Regions from separate parts of the Homo sapiens genome. Here regions 1, 2, 3, 4 and 6 are each reported to be linked to region 5. Evidence: microRNA targets listed by miRTarBase, many of them from high-throughput screens and not tested one by one. Region 5 holds a microRNA gene; each other region holds the end of a gene's coding sequence.
The links. Region 5 holds the annotated microRNA hsa-miR-1913 (UCUGCCCCCUCCGCUGCUGCCA, at 1,680-1,701, shown strand). A microRNA usually pairs through its seed, bases 2 to 8, with sites in the 3' UTR of a target mRNA and lowers its output. Matches are read on the target gene's strand: a 7mer-m8 pairs with bases 2 to 8, a 7mer-A1 pairs with bases 2 to 7 and ends in A, and an 8mer does both.

Region 1 (3,999 bases), not on the chromosome of region 5:
TGGCTTGTAGATGCTTCACTCCAACCTCTGCCTCTGTTGTCGTGTGGTTTTTCTCCCATGTCTGTCTCTCCCTGTGCGTGTGTCTGTCTGTGTCTCTCCTCCTTTTTCTTATACCTGAATCAAGCAGCTTTATTCTCACCCACAGCACAGTTCCATGCACGTGGGAGGCTCTGTTAGGTTCCAGAAGAAATATAGGCACGGAGGCTGTTTCTGGCTTGCAATTCTGTCACCTCAGAGTCCTTTCTTTCTGGAAGTTCACATGAGAAAATAGATGTTTACACCTTTGCTCTTAAGTGCTTACAGTGACATCTATAGTGTCCCCTGGACTTCCAGAGATGAACATGAAGCACATGATCCTATCTAGAATTGGCGGGCACTAATTTTCCCCACCACAATGATTGCCTGTTATTTCAAGCAACTACTATGTTCCTTATTGGTTTTACATTTTAACATACCGGGCCAGGCATGGTGGCTCACGCCTGTAATCCCAGCACTTTAGGAGGCCAAGGTTAGAGGATCGCTTGAGTCCAGGAGTTTGAGACCAGCCTGGGCAACATAGCAAGGCTTCATCTCTACCAAACATAAAAATAAAAAATTAGCCAGGCACGGTGGTGCACACCTGTAGTCCAAGCTACTCAGAAGGCTGAGGTGGGAGGATCGAATGAGCCCAGGAGGCCAAGGCTGTGGTGAGCCATGATTGCAAAAGAGAGAAAAGAAAAGAGAAAAGAGAAAAGAAGTGGGGAGGGAGGGAGGGAGGGAGGGAAGGAGAAAAGAAGAAAGGGAGGGAGGGAGGGAAGGAAGGAAGGGGAAAAGAAAAAAGAAAAGAAAAAGGGGTGGATGAATTAGCCCAAGATACACGGGTGATAGAACCAGCCTTCACAGCCAAGTGGTCTAACTCCAGAACCCACTCTTCGTTTCTTGGAATGTTAAAATGTATTTGAATGCTAAAATGTGTCTTGTCTTGTCTTTCCTGTGTCTTGTCTTTTGTCTTGTCTTGTCTTTCCTGTGTCTTGTCTTTTGTCTTGTCTTGTCTCGAACTGCTGAGCTCAAGCCATCCTCCTGCCTCGGCCTCCCAAAGTGCTGGGAATACAGGCATAAGCCACAGTGCCTGGCCTAATTTTTTTTTTTTTAATAGACAAGAGGTCTTCATATGTTGCCCAAGCTGGTCTTGAACTCTTGGGCTCAAATGATCCTCCCACTTCCGCTTCCCAAAGAGCTGGGATGACAGGCCTGAGCCACCATCCCCTGCCTATTTTTAAAATGTTTGAGGAATATCCATACTGTTTTCCATAGTGGCTATAGTATATCCCACCAGTAGTGTGTGAATGTTCCCTTTTCTCCACATCCTCACCAAAGCTTGTTTTCTTTTGTTTGATAGTAGCCATTCTAATTGAAGTGAGGTGATATCCTCGATGTGGTTTTGATTTGCATTTCCCTGATTCCTGACGTTGAGCAATTTTTTCACATACCTGTTGGCGACTTGTACGTCTTCTTTGGAGAAATGTCTGTTTAGGTCTATTGCCCATTTTTAAATTAGGTTGTTATTCTGTTGTCTAAATTCCTTATATATTCTGGATATTAACCCCTTGTCAGACGTAGAGTTTGTGAATATTTTCTTTTTTTAAAAAAAAAAAAAAGATAAGAGTCTCCGTCTGTCGCCCAGGCTGGAGTATGGTGGCGCAATCTCGGCTCACTGCAACCTCCGCCTCCCAGGTTCAAGCGATTCTCCTGCCTCAGCCTCCCAAGTAGCTGAGATTACAGGCATCCACCACCATGTCCGGCTAATTTTTGTATTTTTAGTAAAGACGGGGTTTTGCCATGTTGGCCAGGCTGGTCTACAAACTCCTGAACTCAGATGATCCACCCACTTCGGCCTCCCAAAGTGCTGGGATTACAGGTGTGAGCTACCACACCTGGCCATGAGGGCCATTTTTACCATATTAATTCTTCTGAGCCCTGGCCACCTTCTCTTCCTTCCTCTTTTCACTACCACGCTACACATTCTCATTCTGTTTCCCATCTCTCCCTCCACATAAGCAAGGAGTTTCACCTGGTTGCCAGAGCGCAGGCAAGGACTGGGCACACAGTAGCTGCTCAATAAATGTGGTTCTTTGACTGATTAGTCTTAAAAGGCTTACAACAGGTAAAGCAGGAGCCCACATTTAGGAGAAGTTAATCATCAAAACCCACAGGGGAGTTCTACGAAATGAAGGGCAGGTCAGCCAGGGCAAGCCTGCCCACCAGGGAAGCCTGTGACATCTGCTCAGATACTTCATTCTGAAGACACTGAACATAGTCGCTCTGTAAAGTCAAGCAAGACTCTGCCCTGACCTGCATCACCCCTGCCCCCACACCTGCAGGAGCCGGAGCCCACCCTCCTGTGTAAACCTACCAGTCCCCCGGCCCTACGCCACGTGCTGAACGTACGTCTAGCCTGAAAGGGGACCTAGAGAGCGCCTCCTGGACTGGTCTATTTCTTACCCACTGGCTTTTGAGCAAGGAGTCAGAGGGGTGCTGGGGGCCACAGCTCTGAGTTTCTCCAGCCTCCCCATCCAGACTGGCTACCTTGACATTTAAAAACGCATTACTTTTAGTTACGTTCGATCAGGACTCACTTTTCTGAATGCAAGTGATCCTCCCTAACCCCAGGCCTGCCGCCTGATGGCTGGGACACACTCTACCTGAGAGCACTCTGAGGGAACCAGTCTCTGAGGGCCCCTCACACCCCCATGTGCAGCATGCGCTGCAGAGCAAAGCCAAGGGTCCCTATTGACTTGTATCACCTTTTATTACACAAAATAGATTTCAGCCACGTTGCACATTCATTCTCCCTACAAATCTGGCTTTTAAGAAATCCGTAGGGATTCAGTCTCATCGATTTCATGACTTTCCTTTCATTGATGTCATGCCTGTATTGTAGTCAAAGTCCTCTCAAAGGACAAACGCAGATGTGGCTGCCTTGGGTCAGCTGCACACAGTACACTCCCGGCCTGCCCGCTGGAGGCGCGGCTCCCACCATCACCTGCACCGCGACTTCTAGGGACTGGCAAAGCGGCAGCATGCCATTGCCTTCTCCAGCCCTTCTCCAGCAGCACAACCAGTCCTCCCAGCTGGTCCTGTGGGGACCAGCCGTCATGGCGACGTGGTGACAATGTCCCCAGGCAGCCGACCATCCTGGGCTTCTCTTTGGGCAGGCCTGGGCCAGGACCTTAGGGGATCTCTGTGTCCATGGTATAAATCTGAATGAGATCAGACACAATATTATCAATGATTGGCTTGGTAAGGTCGTCATTAAACACCTAGAAAGAAGAAGGAAAACAGGTTCCAGTTAGACTCCCTCTATGTTAAACAAGGCACCTGTCACTAAGCAGAGAATCACATTTCATGGGCAGGGGAGGGGCACAGGGACTTGGCTATGTAGGAAGACAGTAGCTCTCCTGCAAAGCCAGTTTAATTCCAGCCCGTTGAGGCCAAACACTTTACAAGGCCGAGAACATTCCAGATGGAACAGGCCTTGGTGATCTTCTGACTCAGAGAGGAGGGGACCTGTCCAACGTCATACAGGGAATTGGTAACACAGCTGGGTCCAGAGCACAGGCTCCTGCCTCCTGCCCGGGACTCCCTCAGGTCCAGGGTCTCTGCGGACACTGGCAAGAGGAGAGGGTGGCAGTCCCTGTGCAGCCACAGGCAGGCTAAGTACCCGGACCCCACGCCTACCCTAACCCAGCCCCTGGGGAGCATGTGGACCCACTCCACAGTCCGGACCGCCACGTGCAGGAGCACTCGCAAGACGGCGAAGGACATCCTCGGGGCCCATGGCAGGAGGGTTGCAGCCCAGGGCCACGCCACAGGCTGGGGTCCACACCCTGTACCTTCCAAAGGCAGGTCTGGCCTCTGCCTGGCTCCTGGAGGATAACCTCTAGGCCCCTAGAAAATCCTGCCCCGTGTGAGCGTCTTGGTTTACTGGACTGCCAGGCGGTCTGTGCTAACCACATCATT
Region 2 (3,999 bases), not on the chromosome of region 5:
AAGACTTTATTATTTCTGTTGTATATATTAATTTGGGGTATTTAAAAACCATAGAAAATCTTTTAATAATAAAGCTAAAAATAGTTATTAAATGGTATTTATGCAAAGAATAAAGATTTGTTAGTTTGCAGATCATTTTAAATTTTGTTACTTGCTTTGCTGAAGAAGGTGGGAAAGATTGCAAGATTGCATGTTAAGAATTTTGGCTGGGTATAGTGGCTCACACTTGTAATCCCAGCACTTTGGGAAGTTAAGGCAGAAGGATTGCTTGAGCCCAGGAGAGTTCAAGACCAGCCTGGGCAACAGTGAGACATTGTCTCTACAAAAAAAGAAAAATAGCCGGCCATGGTGGTAGACACCTATAATCCCAGCTACTCAGGAGGCTGAGGTGGGAGTATCACTTGAGCCCAGGATGTCAAGGCTGCAGTGAGCCATGCTTGTGCCACTGGCTGTCACCAGCCTGGGTGACAGCTGAGACCCTATCTCTGGGGGGTGGGGGGCTGATAAAAGTGTTTTATTCCTTATGCTTATCTGACTGACCTGTTCAGAGTAATCATTTCTATTGCTGTCTAACCTGCCCATGTAAATATTTTTCTTCTCTTTTATAAAGCCGATTATGTTTCGAGGGGAAGTACGTTTAAATGTGGAAGAGAAAAAAACAAGAGCTGCAAGAGAGCGAGAAACCAGAGGTGGTGGTGATGATCGCAGGGATATTAGGCGCAATGATCGAGGTCCCGGTGGTCCACGTGGAATTGTGGGTGGTGGAATGATGCGTGATCGTGATGGAAGAGGACCTCCTCCAAGGGGTGGCATGGCACAGAAACTTGGCTCTGGAAGAGGAACCGGGCAAATGGAGGGCCGCTTCACAGGACAGCGTCGCTGAAGCTCCACTGTTGGCAAAGTCTTGGCAGTGGTACATTATTCATCGTGTTTGCATTCTTGTTAATTTTTTTTTTGGCTTTGGAATGTGACACAGCCTTTTTGATCATTTCTTTGATGTGAAAAGCATCTTTGGTTATCAGTTAAATTGAGGTGGACATTATTTCCCCAATTTCACAACAGGATTCACATTGTTAATTTATAAATCTAGACTTGGAGAATTAAGGACTGAGAAATGACCATATCTTAAACTATCTACGACAAAGTGAACTTAAAAGGACATGCCCACTGAATTCAGGTCCTTTGAGTAAAAAAAAAATCTTCTGCTGCACATTTTGTTTAAGTGTTACTGTTTCTGCCTGTTAATGCTGGGAACACAAATAGTGCAATTTGTGCAATTGGAGAATCTTGCCTTTTTTCTTGGCTCCCCCCAAAAATACAAACCAACAGAAACTTGTTATGCACTCATCAAAATGTACTAATGGGTACTCTGAACTCATTAACATTGACATCTGCAACAGGAGGCAACAGGGAAAAAATCTCATCTTCTTTTCCAGTAGAAAATAGTTTGTGAAATGATGAGGGCATTTTATCTGCTTGCTGTGACCAGCGTGTGTACACATAAACCTTAACAAGACTACAAGTATATTCCAGAAGGAAATCATTTTAGTTATGAACTAAATAATAAAAATTAGAACTTCAAATGCGATGGTCTTGACTATTAGACCAGATTTAGTAGCTCCATATCTAAGATTTTTCTACCTGCCCCTCTTCAGTACAGGGATGGCTGGCTGCTCAACACACTCCTCCTCCCCTTTTTTCCTTTCTTTAAGCTGTGTACAGTGAAAATTGTCTTTACTGTATTTTTGTTCTCTGGTAATGTAATAAGCATGATGGTGCCTTCTATTAATACATCATTCCAGTCTTGCTGGTAATTTTGTACAGTATAGTGTATGAATTGCTGTGCTGCAAAGCCAAACAGCTGCAAAATGTTGAAAAATCATCGAAATGTATAAAAATTGCAGTATCTTTAAAATCAGTAAAATGGACTAGCATATTATTTATCTTGTTCTTCAGTTAACAACTTTGTGTTCTCTGTGGGAGGGAGGGAGTCCTGTGTGTTTGTGGGGAGAGGGAAGGAGGAAGTCAGTTATTTGAGTAAGCCTCTAGTTGACTTTTCTCTTAGCCTGAATGTGGACGTTGAAACATATCACTTCAGGGCTTGGAAAAGTCAGTCAACTTGACGTACATTTTTAGTGACATTTTAAAAGCAGTCAGATTCTATAAATGGCAAGTAAGCCTGAAGTGAGGATACTGCAATTTTCGGAGAAAAGAACAGCAGCTCTTTAAGTGTTTGCATTTTCTATTTGGGGGGCAGGGAACTGTCATTCATTTTGCACAATTCTTGAACTGATGTCAGCACCCGAGTGGCTCCTGAATTTAAGTCTGGGACGACATCTTTTATTTTTACATGAATCTTTAAACAATTCTGTGAGCAAAGTTTGTAGCTGCTGGATTATTGTCTGTCTTTATAGCAAGTTCCAGTAAACCACAAGTATGGCAAAGCTTATCCAATTTTATGCTTGGAGCAGTCAGTACATACCAGTTTCTGATGTTTCAGGCAGGAGTGGGGTAAATAAGTGTGACCACTTAAAGCTGCTCGTTAGCATGGAAGACTTCTCCATTCTATCTTTGTAAAACAGACAAGATATGCACTTGACATAGTAGCAAATTGGTTCTGAATTATGCAACTGTTTGCTATTTAGTAAACTAGCAAATGATGCATGTATTTTGTTTTTCATGTACTGGGCAATATGAGTAAAATCTGTCCCTTTTTCCCCCTTTGAATGAGGTCTTCCATGTTTGAGGGAAAGTCTTGCACTATTGCATATATTTTGGGGACACAGATTTTCATAGTTTCCATTTTTGGGGGGCTTAAGGATTTTTTTTTTTTCTGTTTGAAACAGTTTTATACTTTCTGATATAGTACTTGAAATTCTTACCAGAAAATTACTTTGGAGTTTTGAAGCCTTTATTAATACTACTTTTAAAGAAGCAGTTGTTTTATTGTCAATGTTTTTTTTCCCCCAAGCATATTTTCTTGTATTTCTGTTTCCATATATATATATATATATATAATTTCCAATTCAGGATATTGCCCTGCCATCCATGAAAACTGTTCTGGCACCAAAAGTAATGACAAATGTTAAGTGTAATAATAGAAAAGTAGAGCAAAGAGCCATTCAGCTTCAGTCTTTACATACCATGAATAAAACATTAAAACATCATATGGAGAAGTTTACATGGTGATTGTTCACCTGCAGTACTGTGGAGTTTTAACATTTTGTCCTCTTTTCAGTGAAACAGAGTAAAAATATTCATCTACCATTACTGTTATTTGCTGATTTTGTTTTATTTTTTGATGGTAATATTCTATCCTTATGACACTATTGCAACCAAATTGGCTTTACCATCTTGGCTTTAGTAGGTATAGAAGACAATGGATTACCATCTTTATTGCTGTAATGTGTTAAGCATTATATGCTAGTAGAATCTAGTTTAATTGTTTCAGGTGGAAAGTATTCTTTGAGTTTCCATATTGAATGTGTTTGGACTAAACAAACAATAAACTACTGATGTCTGCAGCATTTATCTATGTCCCTAATTTAATCTATAGTTTTTATTGTTCCCAAATGTTTTCTCCCAGTTGCATTTCATACAAACTAAGTGGGAATAATAAGCAGTTGGGTTTTAAAACAATTTATTTGTGAAATTTGATACGTATAAAAAAAGTAAAACATTTAAGTAACACTTGACCATTGTAAGAGATCTATTCCGTCCAGTTAGACTGCTGGTATACAGGTTGAATGTTAGAATAATAAGTAGTAAGAATGATGAGAATGATCTAAAGCAGATTACAACCTTGGATTTTCTAAAGTATTTTCTGCCTTGCATCTCACAAGAAAGGAGAAGGGAAGGGATGAGAAGATTGAGGTTACCTGAAGTTAATGGACATGACTCAAGTTCAGAAATTGGAACTAATTTATCAAGCTCTCCAAAAATATTGATGTAACCATTAGCCATATTTAGTCATGCTTTCAATGAAAAATGAGGTCCTAA
Region 3 (3,999 bases), not on the chromosome of region 5:
CCCTATCAAGGCACCTTGCTGGCCCCGGCTGGACCTCCTCTCTGACCGCTTGTCCTCTGCTTTCTTCCCAGGACTTTGGGGCTGCAGGGAGCCCCCGCCCACTGGGGCGGCTACTGCCCAAGGTACAAGAGGTGGCCCGGTGCCTGGGGGAGCTGCTGGCTGCAGCCTGTGCCAGCCGGGTGAGTGTACCCCAAACCCCCACACCCACGCTGGGGCCCAGGCCAGTTTAGTGCTTCCCCGCCCTCGTCCAGGCCTGCCTAATCCTGCCCTCCCGCAGGCCCTGCCCCCGTCCTCCTCCGGGCCCCCCTGCCCTGCCCTGACGTCCACCTCACCCCCGGTCTGGCAGCAGCAGACCATCCTCATGCTGAAGGAGCAGAACCGACTCCTCACCCAGGTAGGGCAGGCGCGGGAGGGGTGCAGGGGTGGGGGTGAGGCCCCGCAGGCCTTGACCAACTGTGCACCTGCCCAGGAGGTGACCGAGAAGAGTGAGCGCATCACGCAGCTGGAGCAGGAGAAGTCGGCGCTCATTAAGCAGCTGTTTGAGGCCCGCGCCCTGAGCCAGCAGGACGGGGGACCTCTGGATTCCACCTTCATCTAGTCCTTGTGGGCCGCGTGGGCCCCCAGGGCCAGCCTGGCACTCAGCCCTTCGAGGGTGGGCGCCCCATCGCACCCACCCTCTCTGGCTGGAGACCCCCGGCAGGCCCAGGCACAGTCCCGGAGTGGGCGCCTTCCTGCCGCCCTTGCCAGATGGGCTCCCCAGGCCTGCCCCCGGCTGGTCCCCGCACCGAGCGCTTGACTCCGTTTTGGCTCCTGGTGCTGACATGGGCTGGGGCTCTCTTGAGTCCGCATAGTCCGCAGCTACTACTGCCGCTGTCAGTGGACAGTGGGGTACCCCTCCATGAGTTAGCGTCCCCCCGTTTCCAGCGGTGCCGCCCTGGGTCCCATCTTCAGGGAAAGGCACTGCCCACGCCAGGCTGCACTTCCAACAACGGGCAGCAGAGGGCGCGGGGCGGCTCCGACGCGGGTCCAAGGGCAGCTTCCCGCTCAACCAGGGCACCAGGACGAGGTGGCTGTAGCTCGGACGGACGGAAGTAGATGGAGGGGGTGGGGACGGCCTGTAAGCGGGGGGTGCCTGCCTGGCTGGGGAGCCCCAGGGATAGCGGTCGGACTTCAGGTTCTGGCCAAGGCTGAGGGACCCTGGCTGCAGCGGATCGGCACGCCGGGTGGGCGAGAGCTTGGCCTGCATGTGCCTCCCACAGACCCTGGGGTGATGGCCTTCCCCCTCTTGGCCGGGACGTTGCCCCACGTTGAGTCCCACACAACATCCTGTGAGCCTGGCTCCCCAGGAGGGCCCCCAGACAGCTCCCAGGCACGTCATAGGCAAAGCCTGTTCCCCCGACTCAGGATTTCCAAGGCCTGGGGTCCTGCTCACCCCCCTTTGCTCTCACGCCCAGCCTGTCCCCAGGTTTCAGCTGGGAGAGGCCACCTCCCTCAGCCAAGGAAAACGAGAACCCCCAGGGTACAGGAGGAGGCTGGGGCAGGTCCCCTTGGGTGTCACTCCCTCAGCCCCTGCCCAGGCCCACTCCCGCTGGTGCTGGAGTACGCACTGGTGGGGGGGCCCTGCTCAGCCCAACCTGGAGGGTCCCAGTGTCACCAGAACCAGGGGCACGGCAACAGCATCGATGGGTTCTGCAGCCCAGGGCCCCCGATGCGGGGTCAGTGCGTGGGGGGCGCAGGGCCCCCGATGCCGATGCGGGGTCAGTGTGTGTGGGGCGCAGGGCCTCCGATGCGGGGTCAGTGCGTGGGGGGCGCAGGGCCCCCTCGTGTCCAGGGCACTTTGGTACACTGTCCCACAAGGCACCTGTCTCAGAGGAGGGGCCCTGGCAGGCAGCGTGGCAACTCCCTTCCGGAGCCCAGCTCCATGCTAACCTGCCCACAGCAACCCCACAGAGCCACATTCCCTGCTGCACCTGGTCTGCAGGGGTGTCCCAGGACAGGCCCAAGTCAGCCCAGCATGCAGCTGCCCTCCTACCCTGAAGATGGGAGTGGGCTTTCCAGGGGACATAAGGATGTCAGGCCTGGACCTCCTGGGCAGGAAAGGGTGCAGGTCCTGAGGGCCTGTGCCCCACAGCCCCAGCACCAGGTGGACTGCAGCGCAGTGGGTGGGCCAGTGGCAGCCAGGGAGAAGCCCCCCGTCAGCAGGCTGGGGTCTGCCCACCAGGGCCTCCCCACGTCTGCCTTTGAGGGTGCCTGCCATGCCCTGGGGGATCCTGGCATCTTTACTGGACTGGAAGCAGGAGACAGAACAGTGTCTGTCCCGGGGTGACTTCATCAGGAGACCGCCCACATAGAGCTGGACCCCGCAGCTGAAGCGGAAATGTGAGACAGGCTGGCACCTCCGGAAAAACTGCCTTTCAGCCTTGGTGTTCCGTGCAAGGTGAAAAGAAATAGGTCCTCCCAGTTTACAGCTTGAAATCAGGCTAGTGAGTGGCCCTGGAGACCACGAGGGGAGAATTTAAAGGCCCCGGCTGGCAGGGTCTAGGTGGCTGGCAGAGGCACATGCAGACCCTGCCTGGAGCCTGCCCTAGGACGCTGGGCGGGTCAGTCTCCGTGCAGGATGTGAGCAGCGTCCCTGGGCTCTATCCGCGAGGTGCCAGTAGCGTGTGCAGGTACATACACGTGCGTGCACACTGTGATGACACCCGGAAATGTCTCAGGATGTTGAAATGTGTCCTTGGGGGCAGAAGTGTCCCCAGTTGAGAATCTGCCCCAGAGGAACACACCCACACCAGGCCTCAGGATTTTGTGTTGATCAAGTTCCAAGGAAAAGGAACATCTCAGCCGGGCGTGGTGGTTCACGCCTGGAATCCCAGCACTTGAGGCCAGGAGTTCCAGAGCAGCCTGGGCAACGCAGTGAGAGACCCCATCTCTACAAAAAAAAAAAAGAAAGAAAGAAAATGAGAGATCCAGGTTTAAAAATTCATAAACACCACAAGGAAACAATACACTATGAGACCCAGCAGAAGCAACAGATTGACTCTAGACCCAGATACTAGAATTATCAGAGAGAATATAAAGTAACAGTGTTTTATATATCTAAAGAAATAAAAGAGATTTCTGGAAACATGAACAAGGAGTGGTATTTATAGTTCCTTACTCCATGAAAAGCATGATCTCTTAATGCTATAAAGAAGACTAGGCCGGGCGCAGTGGCTCATGCTTGTGGTCCCAGCACTTTGGGAGGCCGAGGTGGGTGGATCACCCGAGGCCAGGAGTTTGAGACCAGCCTGGCCAACATGGTAAAACCCCGTCTCTACTAAAAATACAAAAATTAGCCAGGCGTGGTGTCGGGCGCCTGTAGTCCCAGCTACTCGGGAGGCTGAGGCAGGAGAATTGCTTGAACCCAGGAGGCAGAGATTGCAGTGAGCTGAGATGGCACCACTGCACTCCAGCCTGGGCTACAGAATGAGACTCCGTCTCAAAAAAATAATATTAATAAAATAAACATGTATCGGTCGGGTGCAGTGGCTCACACCAGTAATCCCAGCCTTTTGTGAGGCAGAGGCGGGAGGGTTGCTTCAGCCCAGGAGTTTGAGGTCAGCCTGGGCAATACGGCAAAACCCTGACTCTACCAAAAATACAAAAATTAGCCAGATGTGGTGGCTCATGCCTGTGTTCCCAGTTACTGGGGCTGCTGAGGTGGGAGGATCACTTGAGCCCAGGAGTTTGAGGTTACCATGAGCTATGATTGTGCCACTGCACTCCAGCCTGAGTGACAGAGCAAGACCCTGTCTCAAAATAAATAAAAGAAAGAAAAGAGAGAATTCGAGAAAGCCCAGACTTTTGGAATTTTTTTTTTTTTTTGAGATGGAGTCTCGCTCTGTCGCCCAGGCTGCAGTGCAGTGGCGCGATCTTGGCTCACTGCAAGCTCCACCTCCTGGGTTCACGCCATTCTCCTGCCTCAGCCTCCTGAGTAGCTGGGACTACAGGCGCCCGCCA
Region 4 (3,000 bases), not on the chromosome of region 5:
GTATCCTGCCGTGGGGTTGACTTGAGTATCCTGCCGTCTCCTTGAAATTCTTAAGTGAGGGGGATCACTGGCCAGGGAGGCGTGAAGCAGACAAGCCTATAGGTACAGCAGTTGTTACTACACTCCCTAGAGGATGAAGAGAACTTCAGGCTTTCCTGAACCATCTGCCTATGAGGGGAGGTGGAGAAGGAACCAGGCCTCATGGAGCACCTTCGACCCAGGTGCTCTGCTTATTTAAATCTCCCCAACCTCACAGATCTTATCTCCACTGGCAGATGGTCAAATTCTTTCCACTGACACTGCCTCAGGCATAAGTGGCATTAGCCTGGAATTCAAGCAGCTTTTGCCACTACCTGGTAAGCCTCGGTGGTGGGAAGTGTCCCTGGAGACTGATGGAAGCAGAGCTAAAAGAGCCACATGAGGCTGGGCACAGTGGCTCACGCCTGTAATCCCAGCACTTTGGGAGGCTGAGGCAGGTGGATCATTTGAGGTCAGGAGTTCGAGACCAGCCTGGTCAACATGGTGAAATCCGGTCGCTACTAAAAATACAGAAATTAGACAGGTGTGGTGATACACGCTTGTAATCCCAGCTACTCGGGAGGCTGAGGCAGAATTGCTTGAACCCGGGAGACGGAGGTTGCAGTGAGCCGAGACCGCACCACTGCACTCCAGCCTGAGCAACGAAGTGAGACTCCGTCTCAAAAAAAAAAAAAAAAAAAAGCCACACGAGCTCACAGCTCCTGGGACAAACTTTGCATTTTGGACACTACGCAAGACCACGGCTGGAAACCTACCCTTTTCTAACTCATAAAAGCATATTAGGATGCATGTGGGTGAATAGGTTCAATTTACTCTAAGGAAATCCTTGACAAAACAGTTAACTCACTCGTGCCACACCTCAGTCCAAATTACTGTAGCCACTGCCCAATAAAGGGCCACCCATTAGCTAAGGGGCAGCAGTCCCCATGACTAGGGTTTTTCTCTTTGAAGGACCACCAGCAGTGGTTAGTTGCCTGCGGGTCTACTTCACACTGCTGGAGTTGCTTTCAGGCCTAGCCTGCATGGACATCTTTTCATGTTTCTCCTCTTACCTGACTCAAGCTGGCTCAAATTCTAACCCTCTGTCACTTAAGTCATGTCTGTCTGGAGAGGGCCTTCCAGAGAACCATGATTCACATGGGCCATTCAAGCCAGTCCCCTAGGAATAGTGGGACCAGAGGGGTCTTCATGCCCCCAACCCTCCTGTGTGGAGAGCTTGCTTGAGCTCTGGTCTCTCACCAGCTTCTTCTCAACCTGGAAGTTTGTAGCATGTATCATTTCTTGGGTGATAAGTCCTTCCATTTTCTTACCCATTTCTTATCACTCAGGTTCTACCATTCTTCAGGTCTATTACAGATTTGTTGAACAAATCTTCTCCAACCTTTAATCATATCCAATTATCTTCTCCCATCAGAAAACGTACTCTTACCTACTTTTCCAGCCAGAACCACCTATTAATGTCTCATTCATGCCCAGATGAAGGCCAATGCCACGCAGCCTAAAGGGGTTGTCTCTGGTCTCCTACCTATACCCACCTTTCAGTGTGTCTGCCTAGAAGGAAATGAGTAATGACCTCTCACAGTCCCTCAGGTTACCCTCACTGTCTACACCTTACTCCTCTTCTGTATGCTTAACACCATCTCACCAAACCAGGGCCTACTTTATGTTCCTAGCAGTAGCTCACAGGGGTATGGTGTGTTTGTGTAACTTTTCAGCACCTTCTCTTTTTCCTTTCAATGATGCAGGGCAATTCTGCACAGACTTACAAACTGTGCATGTAAAAGTGTAAAAGCATGTATCCTCTTATTGTAGTCTTAAAAAGCTCGTGGAATCTAGGGACACAGAAGATTCTGTGGCACAGATTTAGGTACAGAGCAAAATACTCACTGGAAAAATCAAGTATTGGCTAGCTACCACGGGGATTTGATCCTAGCTGGCAAACGTGGAACTCCGCAAATACTTGGAGCCATTAATTATGTATACTTGTTTTATTCATAATTTGTCATGTTCTGGGATACCAAAAGTAATAATGGCTGAACTTAACAAAATTTGTAACCTCATCTTAATATCCACTGATCCATCTCATTCAATGGTAACAGTCAATGTTTTCTAAAGGAACATAAAAACAAACATGCACACAATTGCACAGTTTTCATAAAGGTCTATTTCATTATTGGTGGGTAGCGCATTTAACAGTTAAATACATTTAAATAATGTATAGGTGACTGCAGGACTGCAGCATTGGTAACTAGATAACCAACTAGAAACCAGCTAACAAAGAACTGTCTAAATACTTAAAATACAGCTCTTGTTGAGATCATCCTTTGTTTTGATCATCTTCTTGGGGGAAAAAAGCCTGCTGCTGGTCACAATGGAAATATATTAAGGCCAAATCTTCTGATATCCATTCCCAAAGGTTTCTTTCAGCTGGATTAAGCCTCCAACTCCAGGGCGAGCCCAACCTTGTGGCCTCCAGCATTAATGCTCTTCCCATCTACCAGAGCAGAGAGTGTAAGCTTCACACCTATTAAGACAAAAAAACACAAAAACAAAAAACCGTGATGTACCTGGCACGTCACTCAGTCTGGGCCTTCTTTCACAGTCATCCCCAGAGCCTGCCTGTCACTTCCTCAGCCTGTCAGCTGACCTACTAGTGCTGGCCACCAGAGGGCGCTTGGAAGTATCTGAGACACCAGAAGAACTGGGTTACCATTCTAGCTAAGGCACCAAGTCACAGAGAAATGTTTTAATAACAACTTCAAAGTGTTCTAGAATATACTATAATGTTGAGTATACTATCCCGATGAAAAGAGACTAAAGACATAATCATAATTCGATCCTAGAAAGGAAAACCTACAATAAAGACACATTTGGGAACGGGGGTAAATCTGAATATGTATTTGGTATTACATTAATGTTAGTTTTCTTAGATGCGACAATGGTATTGTGCTTATAAAGAAA
Region 5 (3,999 bases):
ACCTGGTGACCAAAATCATTTAGCCCCAATCTTATCACGCCTCCAGTTTACAAGAAATACAAGAGTTTTAGAAAGCAAATGAGCAACCATCAGACGAACCCAGAATGTGGAACATTCTACAGACGAAAACTGACCTGGACTTCCCAAAAAGTCCACGAAAAAATACAGGGCGAGGGAAATAGGTATGGGACCATTGTCTTCTAGGAGCAAAACAAAGACATTTAACAACCAATATAATTGAACTGGATCCTAGGTCGGGAAAACGACGTGGAGGGGAGGACTGAATATAGATTGGATGTTAGATGTTTCATGGAGTGATTGTTGGCTTTCCTATGTGGCACAGTAGGTGTTAAAGTTATGCTAAGAGACTGTCTTTATTCTTAGGAGACACCTGCACATGCACCTCAGAGTAACATGTCGTGCTGCCTACAATTTTTTGGAGAGCTAGAGATGCATATATATATATATATATATATATATATATATATATATATATATATATATATATATGAGAGAGAGAAAGCAAATGTATTAAAACGTAAGCAGTTGTTAAATCTAGGATTATTGTACAACTTTTTCAAGTTTTGTATATGTTTGAAATTTTTTAATGAAAAGTTGGCGGGAATTATATCTAGTATTTCATGTTCAGTGTTCCTCAGAACTCTTATTTCCTGCCTCATGAAAGCCTTTATCTTTTTACTTTGCAGTTCGGGACCGAGTGAGATCGAAGATGGAGAGAGACATCTTGGCAGAAGTGAATCACCCCTTCATTGTGAAGCTTCATTATGGTAAGTAGAGTCAAAATGACACTTTAAAGAGGACCCAGGGCAACCTTCTCCAGATCAAAGAAAATTGAAAAAGAAATAACAGATCAGAAAGAAGAAAATCTTTCCTATACCATAGAGTCCTGCCCTGCCTGGGGAGGAAGGTGCCTTCTATCCTGATCACTTAATCTCTTCTGTATTTATTTTCTTTGAAAGAGCAAGAAGCCCTGTTTTCATCTCAAAGATCTAATTTTAGATGGGGTATCCATTATTAAATTATTACCATACCATTGATAATTTAGAAGATCTTAACCTAGATTGGGGTGAATCTATGACTTATTTTTGTGTTGTTTTAGAATAAAATACTCTATGACCCAATAATTTCTTTAAACCAGAAATGGTAACACCTCATTTCAAATGAATATCATGTTTAAAGATAGTAGTTCGTTGAACCCTCAAAACTTCTATTCAAGGTAGCTTATTATTTTCATGTTCTGAGGCTCAAATAATTAACCAAAGGCCACATAGCTGCTTTGCCACACAACTTCTCTTCATTTGCTGTCTGCCTTTTTATCCCAACAGAGAAGCAGTAAGTGAAATCTTCAAATTTAAAAAAGATGTGATGAGATGGTGGCTGCAGATTCATGGCTTATTACATTAAACTTTCCCACCTAATAATCCAGATGAGCAAAGTACAGAAGGGAACAGCAACAAAACTAATAGTTTGTTCTTGGTTGCAAAGGGCAAGGTGGTGTGTCGGGGAGGTGTTAGTGAGATTTGCGTGAATCTGAGGACAGGATGAAGGAGGCCTGCAGAAGCTGGGCACACCCTGCTGTTCCTTCTCGGCCGTGGGCAGCGCAGTTGCAAACCTCTACCTCCCGGCAGAGGAGGCTGCAGAGGCTGGCTTTCCAAAACTCTGCCCCCTCCGCTGCTGCCAAGTGGCTGGTGTCAAGTCCCATCCCACGTGTCATTTACATTACTTGCTAGGGTGCTTTTCTGAAGAAATTGAGAACTGGGTGTCCTACAAAGAGCTTTAAACAGACCTCCACATCACCTCAGTGGTGACCCAGCACCTCCACCTGCCTGCCAAGCCCAGGATGGAGCATTTAATGCACACTCAGTTTACACAGTCCTGGCAGAGGGCTTTCTAGCTGGGGGCTATGTTTCTAAAACCCCCACATTTATGATGCTTCTAGCATTTACTTTTAGAAAATAAAACGTTTTCTAGTATGCAGGGATATTGGGATCCCTTCCAGCCACACTTCCTTTGTAGATAAAAAAGATGCCACGCGGTGCCTCACCAGTGCCACTGCAGCAACCATCGTCACAGCAGCGATGGTGACGGGCTTCTCTAGACCCTCCCGTGCTCATGCGCCCGCTCAACAGAGGCAGGCCCTTGCTGAGTGTGGGCAGGAGCTGTGTAGCCTGCCTGTGGCCTGAAACAGAAAGTCTGCAGTTATAGCTCACAGTGACCAGACCTAGGACGTGAGCCCCATTGTTGATGTTCAAATAACTGGGCTGACCTATCACCAGAACTGCCTCAAGAGAGGAAGGCAAGCGGGGGGCTCCCTGGTACCAGAGTGGAGTTCTGTAAGAAGAAGGCACTTCCATAGGACGGAAAGGACATGTCCTCCAAACCCACCAGAGCCATCTTCAGGCTGCTCACTAATGCATTACGACAAAAGCCAGCAACGATACCAGCTTAAATATTCACATCTTTCTCCCCGTGTATCTTTCAATTCCTTTGTGATTAAAAAAGGGAGGGAGGGGAGAGGAAAGAAAGATGAAAGAAATCTCAAGGCCCCCTAACGACAGTGAGAGAGGGGCAGCGCTCACAGTGTCAGACCCCCTCTGCCGGGTGCTGCCCCTCTGAGCTGGTCACCAGCCGGGGTCCTGCCGTTTCTCAAGTGACTCAGCCTCCCGGAGTAAGCAGCACCGTGAGCAGGGAGAAGCCAGAGAGCGATGTTGCCACAGGACATTCGACAAGCTGTCAAAATGCGGGTCTCTGTCCCCCACAGCCTTTCAGACGGAAGGAAAGCTCTACCTGATCCTGGACTTCCTGCGGGGAGGGGACCTCTTCACCCGGCTCTCCAAAGAGGTGAGCAGCCGCCACATCACACAGGAGGGCGGGCAGGAGCTTCTGTCTGGGACTCGAGGGGAGGAGGGGTGGAGAGCATTGAGAGGACGTGAGCACGTGCGAGAGTGCGTGTGTGTGTGTGGGGGTGTGTGCATGTGTGAGTGTGTGCAAGAGTGCGTGTGTGGGAGAGGTGTACATGTGTGAGTGTGTGCAAGTGTGCATGATGTGTGGTGGGGGGTTGCGAGACTGCATGTGCATGTGTGGGGTTTGCATGGGGGCTGTGTGAGTGCATGTGCGTGATGTGTGGGGTGTGTATGTGTTTGAGTGCGTGTGTGGGGGGGTGTGCGTGGTGTTTGGGGTTGTGTGTGCATGGTGTGTGGGAATGTGAGTGTGTGTGCATGTGGGGTGTGCATGTGTCATGTGATAAGTGTGTGGTATGTGTGTGATGTGTGCTGTGTGTATATGTCAGGCGTGTGATTTGTGGTGTATGTGATGTGTGCTGTGTGTGATGGTGTGTGTGCTATGTGTATATGTGGGGGTGTGTTTGGCATGCTGTGTGCATGTGTGGGGTTGGTGTGCGTGGTGTGTGCTATGTGTGGGGTGTGTGGTGTGCTTTGTGCATGTGTGCATATGCAGGGTGTGTGTATGTGTGGGGTGTGTTTGTGTGTGGGTGTGTGTGTGCTATATGTGGTATGTGTGGTATGTGCTTTGTGTGGTGTGGGGTGTCTGTGTGTTTGACATCCTGTGTGCCTATGTAGGGTGTGTGTATGTATGAGTTGTGTGTGTGTGCTGTATGTGGTATGTGTGGTGTGTGCTATGTGTGATGTGGGGTGGGTGTGTGTGTGTGTGTGTGTGTTGGGTGTGCTGTGTGCATTGCTGCCTGGTTCTAAGGAAGCTGCACAAGTGGCCCTAGCAATCGTCCCAGGTGGCCCTGGCAGCGCCCCTGCAGCTCTGGGACCATAAGTCACGCTGTTGACCTCCCAGCTAGCGCAGATGGAAGGCGCAGGTCGGTGGGTAGGAGCGGCTGGGAAAGACTCTCACAGGGTCTCACTTTCCATCCTGGGAAGAGGGAGGGAAGAGGGAGGTACTGCTAAGCCGGCTGAACATTGGGGCTGTTCGGGAGCATCGGGTGTGGTCTTCGCACGCCACCTTTGTCTC
Region 6 (3,988 bases), not on the chromosome of region 5:
TGCTTCGTATGGGGTGTCTTCGTTGCCCCTGGTGGGAGGAGAAGGAAGACTCAATGCTGAGGGAAATGGGCTCTTAGAGGACAAGAGGGCCTGCCACTCACCTGTAGAAGGGGTGACCTTTGGTGTTAGGCCCCACAACTTCCATGCTGCTGGTGTAGACCAGGAACCGTGTTCCGGTCTGCACACAAGCCTCGATCACGTTCCGGGTACCTGGCAGAGGAGGAGGCGTATCCAAGCTGCAGCTTCTTCCCTCTCTGCATCTTCCTCCTCCCCATCCCAGGTCCAGGGAAAACCATGACAGGTCAGGGGAGGCGGGGGCAGGGCTGTCAATAGGACAACTTGTCCCAGGGGAGTCACCGGAGGTCAAGGCCAAAGACAGAGTGGGGAACAAACAGGCAAGATGGCCAGGAGTGTCCAGAGCTCCTCACCCTGCACGTTGACCTCATGGATGGTCTTGGGACTGGCCCTGCCAAACACGTCTACCAGCCCAGCCGTGTGGATGACCACATGGGCTCCGGCCACAGCTGCTGCCACCTCATGGGCCTGGGTCACGTCCCCCTGGATGGCAGTCACCCTCACAGGCCCTGGCCGGGGTTGGAGGACACAGGCCATGTCAGAGCTGGGGCCAGAGGCCAGAGGCTGGGTTCATCTTCCACCCTGGAGTCACGTTCCCAATGTGACTCACTCGACCCATCCATGTGGACAGAAACCAGCATCATCTGTTCCACTGCAGGGGTGGGGATCCCAGCTTGGGAAGGGTTGGGGAAGCGTCCACACCCTCTCCACCACAAGCTCCCCCAACAAGAACCTGTCTTCAGCTCCTCCAGCCAGGGACCCAGGTGTTGGTCAAAGACCCGCAGCTCCCCGAGCCGGGGCTCCCGCTGCAGCAGCATTCGCACCACGTGCTCTCCCAGGAAGCCACAGCCCCCTGTGACCAGGTACACCAGCTTCTGGGCCTGTGCAGAGTCGGCCATGCCTGGCTGGGGAAGAGACCTTGGCTCATCCAGGGGCTGGCTGCCACCTGCTGCAACCACCTGTTACTGCTGGAGGTGCCCTGGAGCGGTGACGAGGCTGGCGTTTGCGGGGAGGGCAGAGCTGATCCTGGGAGCTGCAGCAACCAGGCCACCTGCCGTCTGCCCCTGCTGATGGCTGAGTTACGGAGAGAGGGGCGGGCTTGGGGTGCAGGAAGGGGTCAGGGTTTAGGGAGAGAGATTTGAAGGCAGTAAAAGGGTGGGGAGGCCAGGAGTTGAGGGAGGTGGAGGGAAGGTTATAGGAAGGTGGGAAGGGCCGGATGGAGGGAAAGGCCACCTGGGCACTGGCAGCGCCTCTGCCTACCTGCAGCCGCTATCCCAGGGTGCCCAGACTGGCCTGGAGGGGCCCTCTTCTTTCGTCCAGGGCTGGCCGGCCCGCACACCGTCCTTCCGCTGGCTCCTCCTTCTCCCTCCTGCCCCATTCCAGGAACAGAGACCCGCCCAGCCACAACCCCCACCACTCTTGCCCCAAGGCGCCCCCTGGCGGCCGCTCTGTGCTCCACTGGCATCTGGGTCCAGCGGAGAACTTGGTGGGGATGAAGCTCGAACTTGCAGAGTGGGCTGAAGGGGTCTGGGGCTGTGGGTGGAGCCAGCGGTGACCTCATCCCACAGTGTGACCTCAGGCCTTCCCTCCTGCTGGGCTTCCCAGGAGGCCGGAGGTCCAGCTGCAGCTGTGATTGTAGGAAGGGGAGGCCTGACCTTGGCACCACCCTGGCGGGCACTGGTGGGGTATTCCTGGTGCGGGTGCGGCTGCTGCAGCCTGTCAGGGGGTCCGAGACAGTCTCGGACTGTCTCTGCAGGTCTGGGCTCTTGCCTGAAGGCCCCTTTACCTGCCCCACACTTCAGGTACCCACTTTTCCCTCTCTTCAACTTGCACAACCCTCCGTGCCCTCTACCCCCAACCCCTCGCTCCTGCCCAAATACACCGACCAAACACTTTTGTACAATAAAGTTTAATCACAATTATAAAAATGTGGCGTCGGGTTTGCGCTATTAACATATGTACAGTCCAGCCCAGCAAAAGGGACCCACCCCGCCATCCTGGCCTGGCTGAGCCGGGGAGTGACACCAGGGTGGAAGGGTGACCCTCAGGGTCTGGCAGGAACAGATGAGGCAGGGTTCCAGGCACGGAGTCCCCAGGACTGGGGGTGCAGAGCCCCCCCAGGGGGAGAACATGGCCACTGCCCCAGAGACCCCTAAACTGGGGAGGGGTACACGCAGGGCGTAAGGGGAAGTCCCCATTAACACAAAGCAAGAGGACTGTGTAGCCCCCCAGGACAGAATCTGTACAGGCCGGCACCCCAGGTTTCCACAGGAAACAGCTGCTGGCTGCTACAAAACATTTACAGCTTCTTCTCCGCAAAGAAAAACAATCAGGGGGTGGTGGGCAGGGGTGACAGGAGAGGCAGAAGCTGCCTCCAGGGACTGAGGCTCCCTCGCTGGGCTTGGGGCCCCCAACCCCACGCTTGGAGATGGGGGCATGTGGGCCCTGCTGAGCCCACTAAGGCTGGGGGGGTGCTGGGAGCTCAGGGCACCAGGGGGAATAAATAGGGGTGTGGGCACCCATCCTGCCCCACCTCAGTTTAGGGAGCCCCGGCAGCTCTCTGTGCCACACAGACACGGGATCTTGTTGTCTTCCAGTGGGAACTTGTAGTCGTAGGTGATCTCCTCGTCCACGCCAATGGGCTGCTTGGAGTAGATCACGATCTTCTTCTGGGACTCGATGGTGATGACCTTGGCGTAGCAGTTAGGCTGCGGATGGAAGGGCGTGTGAGCCGTGGCCACCCCCACCGACCCCCAACTCCTGCCCCGGCTGGCCCCTGGCGCACCGTGCAGCAGTGGTTGATGAATCTGGCCAGGTTGCCACACTTGGTGGCATCGATGATGGTGTCGTGGTCCACCCGGAACAGGTAGCTGCTGCCAATGCCCTCCTGCACGTAGCGCTTCTCCCGCATGTCGGCCACCATCTGCCAGGGTGAGATGCGATGGTCAGGGAAGAGTCCCCCACTTCCTGCCCCTGAGCACGCCTGCCAGCCAGCACCCCAGGTCCACGCCCACCAGGCCTGGAGCTGCAGCTCTGCCTCCAGCTCCCGCTAACCCGGCACTGACTCTCTCGACTCTGCTTCCAGGAGCCCTCCCTCTTTGGGGCAGCATCCTAAGCCTCTGGTGGCCATTCTAAGTCACCCGCAGGGAACTCCAGGGAAATCTGCACTGGGTAAGAGAGCCACTGACTCCTTCGAGCATCTGCCTGGTCACAGTGGGGTCCCGGACTGCTGGGGCAAGTCTGGGGTTGGGGCAGCTCCTGAAATGACTGGCCATGTCACCAACGGCACCCTGCTCATCTCTCCTCCCTGGACCTCTCTCCAAAACAGGCACCTGTTGGCTGCCACCGGCTAATGCAAATGGCAGGCCGCCCATGTCAGGCCCCGCACCTCCGTGTGAGGAGCAACCCTTACTTCCCAGAAGACAGTGAGGAGCCTCTGCACGCCCTCCTCGGGTGACCTCACTCCCTTCCAGAGCCTCAGCCGCCAGCTATGTGGTGGGGACTCCTCCCAAACTTCCATTTCCAGCCAAAAGCCACCTCAGTGGAGCTGCTGGGCGTCATCCCCTAGATGTCCCTGGGGCATTGCAACCCCACATGTCCAGACTGGAGCTCATCTTGACCATATATTTGTTCTTCCTCCTCACACCCATCTCACTGGCCCTCCCATCATACTCCCAGCAGCTAAGAGCAGCACCGAGAGAGGGCCTCCCGTCCCCCTCACCCTCTCACTGCTGAGCCCAGCCAACCACCTTGCACCCAAAGCCTCCTCTCTGTCACCTCTGCTGCCACTGCTTGGGTCGGGCCACCCTTGCCTTTGCCTGGATACTGGTGTCAGCCTAGACATGGAGCTCACTAGCCATGGGGCCCTCTCCTGCGGAAGGACCCTCTCCTGCGGAAGGACCCTCTCCTGAAG

Region 1: miRTarBase lists CCNQ as a target of hsa-miR-1913. The part of its 3' UTR that is shown has no 7-base or 8-base seed match.
Region 2: miRTarBase lists G3BP2 as a target of hsa-miR-1913. Seed matches in the 3' UTR shown: 7mer-m8 at 2,251-2,257.
Region 3: the mRNA of SAPCD2 is a reported target of hsa-miR-1913. Seed matches in the 3' UTR shown: 7mer-m8 at 1,535-1,541 and 8mer at 2,738-2,745.
Region 4: miRTarBase lists VDAC2 as a target of hsa-miR-1913. The part of its 3' UTR that is shown has no 7-base or 8-base seed match.
Region 6: the mRNA of SETD1A is a reported target of hsa-miR-1913. Seed matches in the 3' UTR shown: 7mer-m8 at 2,600-2,606 and 7mer-m8 at 2,213-2,219.

What each region holds. Positions count from the first base shown.
Region 1 is chrX:153,585,156-153,589,154 of GRCh38, forward strand. CCNQ (cyclin Q) reads right to left here. Exons shown (of 5, transcript NM_152274.5): 5 at 2,770-3,299. The coding sequence ends at 3,210. Among named protein-coding and RNA genes, the nearest start is that of CCNQ, 12 kb to the right of the region's middle.
Region 2 is chr4:75,642,314-75,646,312 of GRCh38, reverse strand. It overlaps G3BP2 (G3BP stress granule assembly factor 2), which reads left to right. Exons shown (of 12, transcript NM_203505.3): 12 at 611-3,527. The coding sequence ends at 883. Among named protein-coding and RNA genes, the nearest start is that of CDKL2, 14 kb to the right of the region's middle.
Region 3 is chr9:137,061,258-137,065,256 of GRCh38, reverse strand. It overlaps SAPCD2 (suppressor APC domain containing 2), which reads left to right. Exons shown (of 6, transcript NM_178448.4): 4 at 72-179; 5 at 278-394; 6 at 470-3,130. The coding sequence ends at 598. Among named protein-coding and RNA genes, the nearest start is that of SAPCD2, 7.3 kb to the left of the region's middle. RefSeq lists an enhancer at 671-1,448.
Region 4 is chr10:75,230,461-75,233,460 of GRCh38, reverse strand. VDAC2 (voltage dependent anion channel 2) reads right to left here. Exons shown (of 10, transcript NM_001391963.1): 10 at 2,013-2,563. The coding sequence ends at 2,472. Among named protein-coding and RNA genes, the nearest start is that of COMTD1, 4.0 kb to the left of the region's middle.
Region 5 is chr6:166,507,066-166,511,064 of GRCh38, reverse strand. MIR1913 (microRNA 1913) reads left to right here and starts at 1,632; the gene lies at 1,632-1,711. RPS6KA2 (ribosomal protein S6 kinase A2) reads left to right here. Exons shown (of 21, transcript NM_021135.6): 4 at 708-788; 5 at 2,783-2,862. RefSeq lists enhancers at 3,049-3,988, 3,989-3,999.
Region 6 is chr16:30,982,645-30,986,632 of GRCh38, reverse strand. It overlaps SETD1A (SET domain containing 1A, histone lysine methyltransferase), which reads right to left. Exons shown (of 19, transcript NM_014712.3): 18 at 2,861-2,998; 19 at 1,969-2,783. The coding sequence ends at 2,610. HSD3B7 (hydroxy-delta-5-steroid dehydrogenase, 3 beta- and steroid delta-isomerase 7) reads right to left here and starts at 1,426. Exons shown (of 7, transcript NM_025193.4): 1 at 1,336-1,426; 2 at 809-980; 3 at 429-584; 4 at 102-210; 5 at 1-28. The coding sequence starts at 974. RefSeq lists an enhancer at 1,445-1,957.